Linked DNA regions of Homo sapiens: regions 1, 2 and 4 are each linked to region 3. Evidence: fine-mapped expression QTL. A gene starts in region 3. Each other region holds a variant in brackets. All regions are shown on one strand. Distances are from middle to middle.

Region 1 (2,709 bases), 28 kb after region 3:
ATCTTTATTTTCCAAACCCCAGTGGTGAACCTCCTCGAGGCCAGCCATTCATCACATGTTCCCCGACTCATATGGCTCATGCTTGAGCCAGGTAAACCACAGCCTCTTCACTGCCAGCCAGGCATCAGACAAATCCAGGCTCAAACCTGGGCTCAGTACGAAATTACTAATAGTAAGTGCTTAATCTTTCTAATTTTCAATTCACTCCTTGTGGAATTGTGATTAGGATATCTCCCACAAGAGTCTTTGTGAAGGTTAAATAAGAAAATGAATGCCAAGCACTTAATGCAGAGGCTGGTCCACATCACCACAGGCTCAGTAAATGGTGGCCAACATCATTAGTACGTGTTTATGATATCACAACTACTTTACATCAACAGTTAGGTGGACAATACATATCAAAAGAAAAAAGGACTTTCTTTTACATAGTCTCTCACCCATGTAGAACCTACTCAGTAAACCAGTGGTTCTCAACCTTGAGATACACATTAAGAGTCACCTGTTTACCCTTGAATCTTAATAATGTCCTACTCTCTTAAGATAGAAGTACAAATAGCACACGTATGGACCTGGGTACTACTGGTTTCTTAATTATGGTCTATCTTTATTAACAACTCCAAATCGTAATTGAACACAGTTTCCCTGCATTTATTGGTCTTAGGAGTCTGATGGTTAAAGGCAAGAAATTTGACTTTAACACTAATGTGTTGATATTTCACACTTACATTTACTAGCTGGGGCCACATGCCCCAGCCTGACCTTTGTTTCTATCCAAAGTCCTTTCTGCAAAGTGCAGTCATTTCTGCCCCATAGCAGGAGCTAAAGCACTTGCTAAATAAATGAATTCACAGCAGAGAATGGCTAAATGCCCTTCATGTTACAATGTTGGATGAACAATGAGTGGTTCATGGATAAGAGACGTGGCATACTGGCCAGGCGCAGTGGCTTATATCTGTAATCCCAGCACTTTGGGAGGCCGAAGTGGGCAGATCACCTGAGGTCAGGAGTTCGAGACCAGCCTGACCAACATGGAGAAACCCCGCCTCTACTAAAAAACACAAAATTAGCTGGGCGTGGTGGCGCATGCCTGTAATCCCAGCTACTCAGGAGGCCGAGGCAGGAGAATCGCTTGAACCTGGGAGGTGGAAGTTGCGGTGACCTGACTTCGCGCCATTGCACTCCAGCCTGGGCAACAAGAATGAAACTCCATCTCAAAAAAAAAAAAAAAAAAAAGAGAGAGAGAGAGAGAGACGTGGCATCCTTTCTTTGAAATATACCAAGGGGAGGCAATGCGATGAGCTTCTGAGTCAGACACATCTGTGTCCCTGGGGAGATCAATTAACCTATCTGAGTCTCTATAAGGATGAAGATAATGACAGCACCTACCTCCTGAATGGTTGGGAGGATTAAATGAATCCATCAATGAGCAGTGCACAGCTTTTAAGACATAGTCTCCTTGATGCTGATCTCACATCCTTTCTTTTTTTTTTT[TC/C]CTTTTCTGAGACAGAGCTTTGCTTTGTTGCCCAGGCTGGAGTGCAGTGGCACCATCTCGGTTCACTGCAACGTCTGCCTCCTGGGTTCAAGCGATTCTCCTGTCTTAGCCTCCAGAGTAGCTGGGATTACAGGTGTGCCACCACCACGCCCAACTAATTTTTGTATTTTTAGTAGAGACAGGGTTTCGCTGTGTTGGCCAGGCTGGTCTTGAACTCCTGACCTTGGGTGATCCGTCTGCCTCGGCCTCCCAAAGTGCTGGGATTATAGGCAAGAGCCACCATGCCTGGCCTCGTATCCTTTCTTGGGGTTGCCCCAACCTCTCTTTCTTATTTTCATTCACTTTCTAGTTTCTGACCAGGGATCTTCTTTGGGAAGATTACATCTGGAGAATCATGTTTATTTCTGAGCATTTGAAGAGGGCTTTGTCCAGGACTATAAAGGCCAGAAAACTGTCATGTGAAAAGTGGACTTTTAGACATTAGGTAAAAACTAAGGCAATGTGAATAAAGTATGGACTTTAGTTAATAATATCAGTTTATTAGCTGTAACAAATGTACCATAATGACATAAATAATAGGGGAAACTAGGTGTGGGGTATGTGAGAACTCGCTGTAATATTATTGCAACTTTTATATCAATCTAATACTATTCTAAAATAAAAAGTTTATTCACTGTTAAAAATATTTATCAATATTAAAACCATAAAAGTCAAAATTTACATATATGTTTATAATTTATTCCTATATGTACATGACAAGAAATTATCAGAATAAAAGTGGAATTTTTTTTTTTTTTTGGTAGAGTCAGTGTCTCACTATGTTGACCAAGCTGGTCTCAAACTCCTGGCCTTAAGCAATCCTCCCATCCTCGCCTCCGAAAGTGCTGGGATTATAGGCATTGAGGCACCATGCCTGGCCAAGAAATTATTTTAATGGACCTCTAGTCAGGAATAAGAAACACATTGGGGAAATAATAATATTGGTTACTTTCTTAAAATATTTGCAGGCCTCTATTGTGTGGAAGGTAAGATATATGCCGTATAGTTCCCAAGGCAGAAATAATGAGCAGAAATGACAGATAATCCAGTTTTACCTCAGTTGATGATTAAAACTGTACCCCCACATACACACACAAAATGGACACATTGTAAAGTAGTATATAAACTCTTTGAAAGTTGTCATGCAGAAGGCAGATGACCACCCATTGAGGGGATGT
Region 2 (2,709 bases), 220 kb after region 3:
TTGCAAACAGCCTATCACAAGCAGCCTGTGAAACTTTTTCACCAGATTGATGTGATCTGACCTACTTTTTTAAAGGGATCACTCTGGATGCTGTGTGGAGAAGAGTCTGTAGGAGCAAGGCTGGAAACAAGGAGACCAATTCGGAGGCAATAGTAATAACCCAGTTGAGAGGTGGTAGCTGGGACCAGAATGTTAAAATGATGGAGGAGGCAAGAAGTGGTTAGATTCTGAACCTAGAAAACAGAGCCACTAACTGATGGATGGCATGAGAGAGAAAGTAGGGAGTCAGGGATAATCCCACTGTCAGTGGCCTGAGAAAGCAGAAGAAAGAAGTTGCCATTTCCTATATGGGGAAGATCATGGGGGGAAGATTTGGGGAGGATTGTAGGAAGTTTAGGAGAAAAAAATCAGAGATTTATATGAGATGCCTTAATAGACATCTAAGTAAAGAAGAACAACAGTCCAAGGACTGAGCCCTGTGTTACTGTAACTTTAGTGGTTAGGAAAATGAGGGGGGACAAGCAAATGAGACTGAAGCAGAGAGATCAGTAAAGTAGGGGAAAAACATGGGAGCAGTGTCCCAGGAGCCAAATGAAAACAGTATTTTAAGGAGGGAATGATGATCTGTGAGTTGAGTAATAGGGCTGAGAATCATTTGGATTTGGCAAAAGAGCTATCACTGGTGACTTTTTCAAGAGTTTTGGTGGAGTCTTGGAAATGAGAGTTGGATTGAGAGTGGGAGAGGAATTGGAAACAGTAAGTATAGAGAATTCTTGAAGAGCTTTGCTGCAGAGGAAAACAGACAAATGGGATAGACATTGGCAGCAAATAAGGGACCAGGAGGAGTTTTATTATATTTTTAAAATAGGAAATGTTATGGGATTATACGGATGGAAGTGGAATGATCCAGTAACGAGGGGAAGTAATGGCACAACAGAGAGGCTACTTGCTAAATGCTGCCTTTCGAGTAGTTGAGAGGGAAGGGGTTTAACTGTGGCCAAATCTCTGCAAATTAAAGGAACCAGCAAAAACAGATCAGATCACATTTCAGCCCGTCAGCATCTTACGTGAAGGATAGAATAGAATTGTAATCAATTATACAGTTTTCAACACGAACAAAATATTTGTGCTGGAAAGGAATTACCTCTGAGTGTGACCCTGTACAAGCCACCCTCTACTGACCATTCATTTTCTCATC[T/C]ATGAAGTTGTCATAAACCATCTAGCTTAATATTAAATGCTTTCTGGAAATGAAAACAAAAGATATAAGGACAATCACACATGATAGCAGCATATGGAAAAACTGGAACCCTTATACATTGCTGCTGGGAATATAAAATGGTGCAGCCACTTTGGAAAATAGCTCGGTAGTTCCTCAAAAGGTTAAACAGTGTTGGCACATGATCCAGCAATTTCACTCCTAGATGCATAAGGAAAAAAATATATCCACACAAAGCTTGTACACAAATGTTCATAGCAGCATTATTCATAATAGCTAAAAAGTGGAAACAATCCAAATATCCCCCAACTGATGATTGGATGAACAAACTGTCATATCTGCACAATGGAAGATTGCTTGGCCATACGAAGGAATAAAGTACTGATCCATGCTACCACATGGATGAACTTAAAAACATACCAAGTGAAAGGCGGCAGATGCAAAGGGCCACATATTGTATGATTCTACTTATTTGAAGTATTGGATAATAGGCAAATCCATACAGACAGTAGATGAGTGGTTTCCAAGGACTGGAGAGGGGGAAATGGGGAGTGACTGCTAACGGATATGGAGTTTTTTGGGGGGAGTGATGAAAATGTTCTGGAATTAATAGTGGTGGTTCACAACTTTGTGGATATATTTTAAAATCACTGAGTTGTATACTTGTAAATAGTGAATTACCTCTCAATTTTTAAAAAGCCTAAGGAAAATATCATGAGTTAAGATCTTTTGATAAGTGGTTCTCAACTGTGGCAGTTTTGCTTGCCAGGGGGGACACATGGCAATGGCTGGAGACATTTTTGGTTGTCCATTTTACTGGCATTTAGTGGGCAGAGGCCAAGAATGTTGCTAAACCTCTTATAATGCACGGGACAGCACCCACAACAATAGTTATCCTGCCCAAAATGCCAGTCAGGCAAAGTTTAAGAAACGCTGCTCTAGGTGTATGTTCCACAAGACCTGAACTCAGCATATCAAAACCTGAGCTCCTCATTTTCCCCCAAAGCCCTGCTTCTCCTTCTGGTCCTATCCCACGACTCCTCCCAGGCTTTCAGGACCCATCCCTGACTCCTCCATTCCTCCACCCATTCTCCTTAGCTAATTCTAAATCTCTAGTGCCTATTATAGGCCCTCACCAGTTCTTATCTAGGGCAGCAGTCCCCAACATTTTTGGCACCAGGGACTGGTTTTGTGGAAGACAGTTTTTCCATGGGTGGTGGTTGGAGGAATGGTTTTGGGATGAAGCTGTTCCACCTCAGATCATCAGGCATTCGATTCTTGTAAGGAGCACACAACCTAGATCCCTCACATGTGCAGTTCGCAATACGGTTCAGGATCCTATGAGAATGTAATGCAGCTGCTGATCTGACAGGAGGCAGAGCTTAGGCAGTAATGCTTGCTCACCGGCTGGCCACTCACCTGCCCCGCAACCCAGTTCCTAACAGGCCACGGACCAGGTCAGTACTGGTCCTCAGCCCGGGGGTTGGAGACCC
Region 3 (2,709 bases):
CGCGATCGCGCCACTGCACTCCAGCCTGGGAGACAGAGCAAGACTCCATCTCAAGGAAAAAAAAAAAAAAAGAACGTGATGACTAGAAAACAAAAACTACAATGTTCTTTGAAGTTGAACAATCAGTTTGAAAAATAAATAAAACCTTATTAGAAGTCGGCATCATCAAACAATCCTTCAAGTTTACCCTTGAAAGGAACAGAACGAAAGAGAAAGGCTGTCCTAAGCTCCTTCCCTAAACCCGAAAAGCACTTTGAGGACGATCGACCCACTTTTAGTTTCTATTCAAATGATCTCTTTAAATCCTTTAGGAATTGAGCACCAAACTTGTAACTATTAATTGTTCGTGCACAGCTCGTAGAAATTTTAACATTAGCAGAATGCAGACAGCTGAAAAATCAAGATTTATTTTCCCATCTAAAGCCTAACATAATAGCAATTCATAACCACTGTGTGAAACCGGAAATCTAACACTGTGTATGTCTAAAGTCAAATGCCAGTGTTTTCTAACAAAACTTTTACCAATAAGGTGTGTACACACACCCACACAGACGCACGCTAAGCTCAATTTTTTACTAATAAGGTGTACGCGCGCGCGCGCACGCTAAACTCTAGCCACAGATTCCCTAAGCCAGGAGTGCAAGTCGGTCGGGACTAGTCCACACCTTGCGAACGGGGCGGGGTGGGGAATGGATTCCAGGTGAAGCAGGCCATCAGCCAGAACCGCCAACTCCGCCCGCGGCCCTCAAAAGTAGGCGGCGCAGGGAGTCTCCGCCCCCTTCGCCACCGGCGACTCAAACCAAAACAGCTGGGTTTCTCTCCGCAAAGGCAAACCCCAGCGTCCTTCTCGGACGCGACCTACGTGTTTTCTCAGCTTACTGCGCCGGTAAAACCCACACTGCCCTCAAAACAGTCACCCCAGAGTTTAGCCTTGGACACCAGAAGCTTTTCCTTCGGGGGTCGCCAGCGTCACTCGTCCCCAGCCAAAGGGCCCCCGTCCCACACGCCTCCCCCAAATCGCGAAGGCCTGTCCCACGGGCCTCCCACCGCGTGGGGCGGCCACCCGTTGCCATTCCAAAACTCCACAGCTGATCCGAGTCGCCCACACCCCCGTCACAATCGCAGTCTGGAAAGGAAGGTTTGTCTTCGGGAAGGAAAGCCTCGTCACCACAGAGACCTCTCCCGAGACCGGCCAGGCCCCTACAGTACAGGGGCTGAAGGGTGTAGCACGAGCCCTAAAAGAGATGCAGCTGGAGGCCGCCCCGCACAAGGCGCTGGGGTGGACCGGGGAGGCGCCTTACCCAGTGGAAAGACTCCCGGATCAAGGGAGAAAGTTACGCAGGCTTCCGATCCTGATCCGCCATCAGCCGCCGAACCTCTTCCGCCACTACCGCCTACCCCCAAAGACCGGCTACACCTCCCCTCCCAGCCGACAGTAGGCCTTGCGTCACTTCCGCCCACGGGGCGGTCTCTTCCGCCTCCTGCCTGGTTCGCCGCTCCCCTCCGCGACGACACGCCCCCAGCCCACTCCGCCGCGGGACGCCTCATCCCGCGGGTAGGCTGGCTCTCTCCTTACTTCGTCCTTGCTATTTTCGTTCAACTTAATCGCAGCAAAACAATGCGTCTGGATTTACATTCTGATTTTATGTTATTATTTTGACATACGAAAGGGGGAAACACACAGGAGGTTTAAGTAACTCACCAGCGATGTGGAAAGGGCAGCTCAGAGGTCCATGGACAGTACCGTATCCCTGTCTGCGTCTCAGTCGGCCTAAACTAGCCCACTCATTTTATAGATAAGGAAATAGCCAGAGAAGCAAGGGAGTGACCACACGGCTAGGGCTGCAAACCCCTGAGCACCAAGACTGTCTCTGAACTCCTGGCCCAGTCGTGTGCTTTTTTGGCTATGAAGTTTTGTTCACTGAAAGCTCCTAGGAGCTTTTCAGTTCTAATGCCCTCTGATTCTATTTGCTCTCGCTCCAGCAGAGGCCTCTTTTCTAGCCGCATTTCTGTGAGTTACCTGCTTTTGTTATCCGTATCATTTTCCGTGTGTGAATTTTCTCCCGCGTTCTGTTATTTCTAAAATCACTTTTGCTTGTTGTATATGTTGCCTTCCTATATTGGACATTCAGTTTGAATCGTAACTCCACAGAAGCAAATGTGTCCCATTCGAATTCATCATAGTCTTCTGTTGCCGTAAAACCCTGACAAACCTTGCAATAGCACCAGAAAGGATATGTAAATTAGATCGCATTAAATGTTGAAGCACATTCTAAATACAGAACATTCAAAATTATCTTTCATATACTTTCATCTTTACTTCCAGTTATTTCAGAAGACATTAGCTTTGATAACATAGGTTCTCAATATTTACAGACTGATTTGTTTCCTGTGTATTGACATTTTTGAACTTGGTCTTGTGCTGGGTATTATACTTGATCATAGAATTTCAGAAGAACCTTAATAGGCCATTTAGTCCCAGTCTCCTTATTTTATGGATGAAGAAAACGGTGTGAATAATCAACATAAGTTATCACTTGCGTTACTGGTAGCAACCTTCTGGTAGTAGAAATAACTGTGTCCCTTAAGAAATGTAAACATAGCAGTGAATTTTATAAGCACAATTTGTCAGAGATGTCACTCTTTGTTTAAATCACATTCCTATTTATATGTAATACATTTTTAATTACCACTAATTTTCAGTTAATG
Region 4 (2,606 bases), 100 kb after region 3:
TGTGTCATCTCTGATTTCTTTGAGTAGTATTTTGTAATTCTTGTTATAGAGATCTTTCACCTCTCTGGTTAGCTGTATTCCTGTATTTTATTCTTTTTGTGGCTATTGTGAATGGGATTGTGTTCTTGATTGGGCTCTTGGCTTGATTGTTGTTGGTATATAGGAATGTTAGTTATTTTTGCGCATTGATTTTGTGTCTTGGGACTTGGCTGAAGTTGTTTATCAGCTTAAGGAGATTTGGGCTGAGACTATGGGGTTTTCTAGATACAGCGTCATGTCTGCACACAGGGATAGGTTGACTTCCTCTCTTCATATTTGAATGCCTTTTATTTCTTGCCTGATTGCTCTGGCCAGGACTTAAGTACTATGTTGAATAGGAGTGATGAGATAGGGCATCCTTGCCTGGTTCCGGTTTTCAAGAAGAGTGCTTCTACCTTTTGCCCATTCAGTATGATGTTGGCTGTGGGTTTGTTATAGCTTATCCCTTTATTATATTCGTGTTTCTGTTGGAAACAGATGCATCATTTCAACTTTTAGCATCTTTTTAAAAAACGTAACTGATAATAATGATCAGATCTTAATATTTTAGAAATTTTGAATCAATAAATTGCGAATGCAGTGATTTAAAAATATAAACCCCGGAACCAAACTGTCTGGGCTCACATCTCAGCTCTGCCATTTGCTAGCTGTGTGACTTCAGATTACTTAACCTTTCTCTGCTTAAATTTCTTATTCTTATATAAAATGGGGATGATAAGAGTACCTTTCTCTTAGCCCAAAAGAACCTGGCACATAGAAAGTACCATTACTGCTGCTGCTACTACTATTACTGCTGCTGCTGCTGTTACTGTATCTATGCCATATTTCTCCAAAATCTTTATTCTCCAACATACCCCAAACACCACTGTCTCAGCTGCATTATTGAGTCCAGAATATGTTGAAAGAGAATAATAGATGTATTTTCATTCTTGATTATAGCCAAAAGGCCAAGAAGTGATATGTAGACATATTTCTAAATGAAAGAATGAAGATACAAATTAAAAC[C/T]AAACTAGGAGGTAAAGTGATTTGACAGCATTCCTGTTTAAGAGTCTGCTCTGCACTGCCCCTTCTGACCCACCTTTATTTTGCAGAAGATACTGGTTTTTCTTTTTAACTTAATCCTTAGCATCAAGGACATGTGACTTGTGCTTCATTTTCATTGTCTAGGATTTTCCTTGGAGATGCTGCTGATCTATGCCAAAAGTCTGGGATGTATGCACCACTTCTGTGTGAGTTTATTCTGATTGAACTAGGCTTAATTAGATTCTCTTTTCTTTTGTTTTCTCTTTAAAAACTTGGAAACCATTTTGTTGTTCCTGAGTTGTAAGGCTGAACATGTTTGCTTAAGTAAATCTCTTGGGATCTAATCTGGCATCCACTCAGGTCTTGTTAAATGAGAGCTTTAAAAGCCTCTTGCTGAGTGGGCTCCATCATTGTTGACCAAATGTTTCAAGATGTAGGCACAAAGCGCTTTTGTCAGTTTTTCAAGTGTAGTTTAATTTTGAAGTAATTGTGCTTTTCTACTTTTAAAGTATTTAAAAAGTACTTTTAAAGAGTACTGTTAAAGATTAAAAAACACAGGAGTGGCAAGTTTAACAAGATCACATTCTTCTTGTTTCTTTATAAATTTCTGTTACCCATCTGGTTTACTTGGAAGCAATGCTGAACTTAACTTATGTGACTGTTTTATCTAGAAGAGGCAGCAAGATTTTTCTCTTCATGTAAAGCAACTAGGTAACATTTGTCTTCTTCCAATGGATATGTAAAAAGGGGGTGTAGTCCCTTCAGATTACTCTTGGCTCTTCACCCCCCTCCTCATGCTGCAAAGCAGATTTTTTGTTATTAAACAGATTTTTAATTTATTTTAGCAGATTTTTAATTTATTCAGTCCTCTGCTCTTTATATTACACACCCACCATTGATGCATACTGGCATACAGATAAATCAAAGTCTAATTCAGAGAAATTGGCTGCAAGAATTCTTAAAGACTATATTGTGGTTTACACAGAAACCAATTTCCTGTAGTCAAAATTGAGATAATAGAAGAGTAGAATTATCTTAATTCATAATAGTATAAGTATGAGGCCGTTGGAATTAGCAGGAGATCTGTCTGGGGCAGCCTTGACAATCAGAGCAGAGCCATGTCCCAGAGTCAGCCAGGCCAATGACCATCCCCAGTTATGGAGGTGTTGAAAACCTGCACGGTGAAAGTCCTGCAAATGCTGTGCATTGTGCTGAATCATTGCACATGCTTCCAGTCCCCTTAGCCCCTTTTCATGGGAACCATACCTTCTTAGAACTTGAGATTACTAAATATGAAAAATATCTGTCTAAGTTTCCTTTTTACTTTGGAGATAGGAACCCTGAGAGATAACCCAAATCACTGTTTTTATTTTATAGATTTGGAAACTGAAGCTGGAGATGTTACATAGTTTACACAAAATCACCCATGACTTCTTGGCTGAGCTGCAACTTAACCCGGGTCTCTGGCTTCCCAAATTAGTGTTCCTTTCACTGATCCATGCTGTCTTTGCTTATCCATTCAATTAGCAAATGTAATTGAAGGA

Alleles and levels. Positions count from the first base shown, and alleles are read on the strand shown. Sizes are in standard deviations (SD) of each study's normalised expression. Not every link is listed here.
As copies of C replace TC in region 1, the expression in monocytes of the gene that starts at base 1,409 in region 3 goes down (large effect, 1.7 SD a copy in Quach 2016).

Evidence for each region. PIP is the estimated chance that this variant, and not a neighbour inherited with it, causes the effect. A credible set is the group of variants that fine-mapping cannot tell apart.
Region 1: its variant is the best candidate, but not a certain one, in a credible set for the expression of TAX1BP1 in monocytes (Quach 2016, PIP 0.68).
Region 2: its variant is the best candidate, but not a certain one, in a credible set for the expression of TAX1BP1 in whole blood (INTERVAL, PIP 0.53).
Region 4: its variant is the best candidate, but not a certain one, in a credible set for the expression of TAX1BP1 in whole blood (INTERVAL, PIP 0.57).

The regions. Positions count from the first base shown.
Region 1 is chr7:27,710,483-27,713,191 of GRCh38, reverse strand. The region is part of intron 2 of LOC105375211 (a long non-coding RNA gene); the gene reads right to left. Among named protein-coding and RNA genes, the nearest start is that of TAX1BP1, 28 kb to the left of the region's middle. The variant TC/C (reference allele first, on the strand shown) is at 1,492.
Region 2 is chr7:27,521,493-27,524,201 of GRCh38, reverse strand. No RefSeq gene overlaps it. Among named protein-coding and RNA genes, the nearest start is that of TSL, 93 kb to the left of the region's middle. The variant T/C (reference allele first, on the strand shown) is at 1,199.
Region 3 is chr7:27,738,862-27,741,570 of GRCh38, reverse strand. It overlaps TAX1BP1 (Tax1 binding protein 1), which reads right to left and starts at 1,409. Exons shown (of 17, transcript NM_006024.7): 1 at 1,302-1,409. TAX1BP1-AS1 (TAX1BP1 antisense RNA 1) reads left to right here and starts at 896. Exons shown (of 2, transcript NR_187572.1): 1 at 896-1,555. RefSeq lists enhancers at 1-611, 1,126-1,395, 612-1,474 and a silencer at 726-958.
Region 4 is chr7:27,635,338-27,637,943 of GRCh38, reverse strand. The region is part of intron 2 of HIBADH (3-hydroxyisobutyrate dehydrogenase); the gene reads left to right. Among named protein-coding and RNA genes, the nearest start is that of TSL, 21 kb to the right of the region's middle. The variant C/T (reference allele first, on the strand shown) is at 1,045.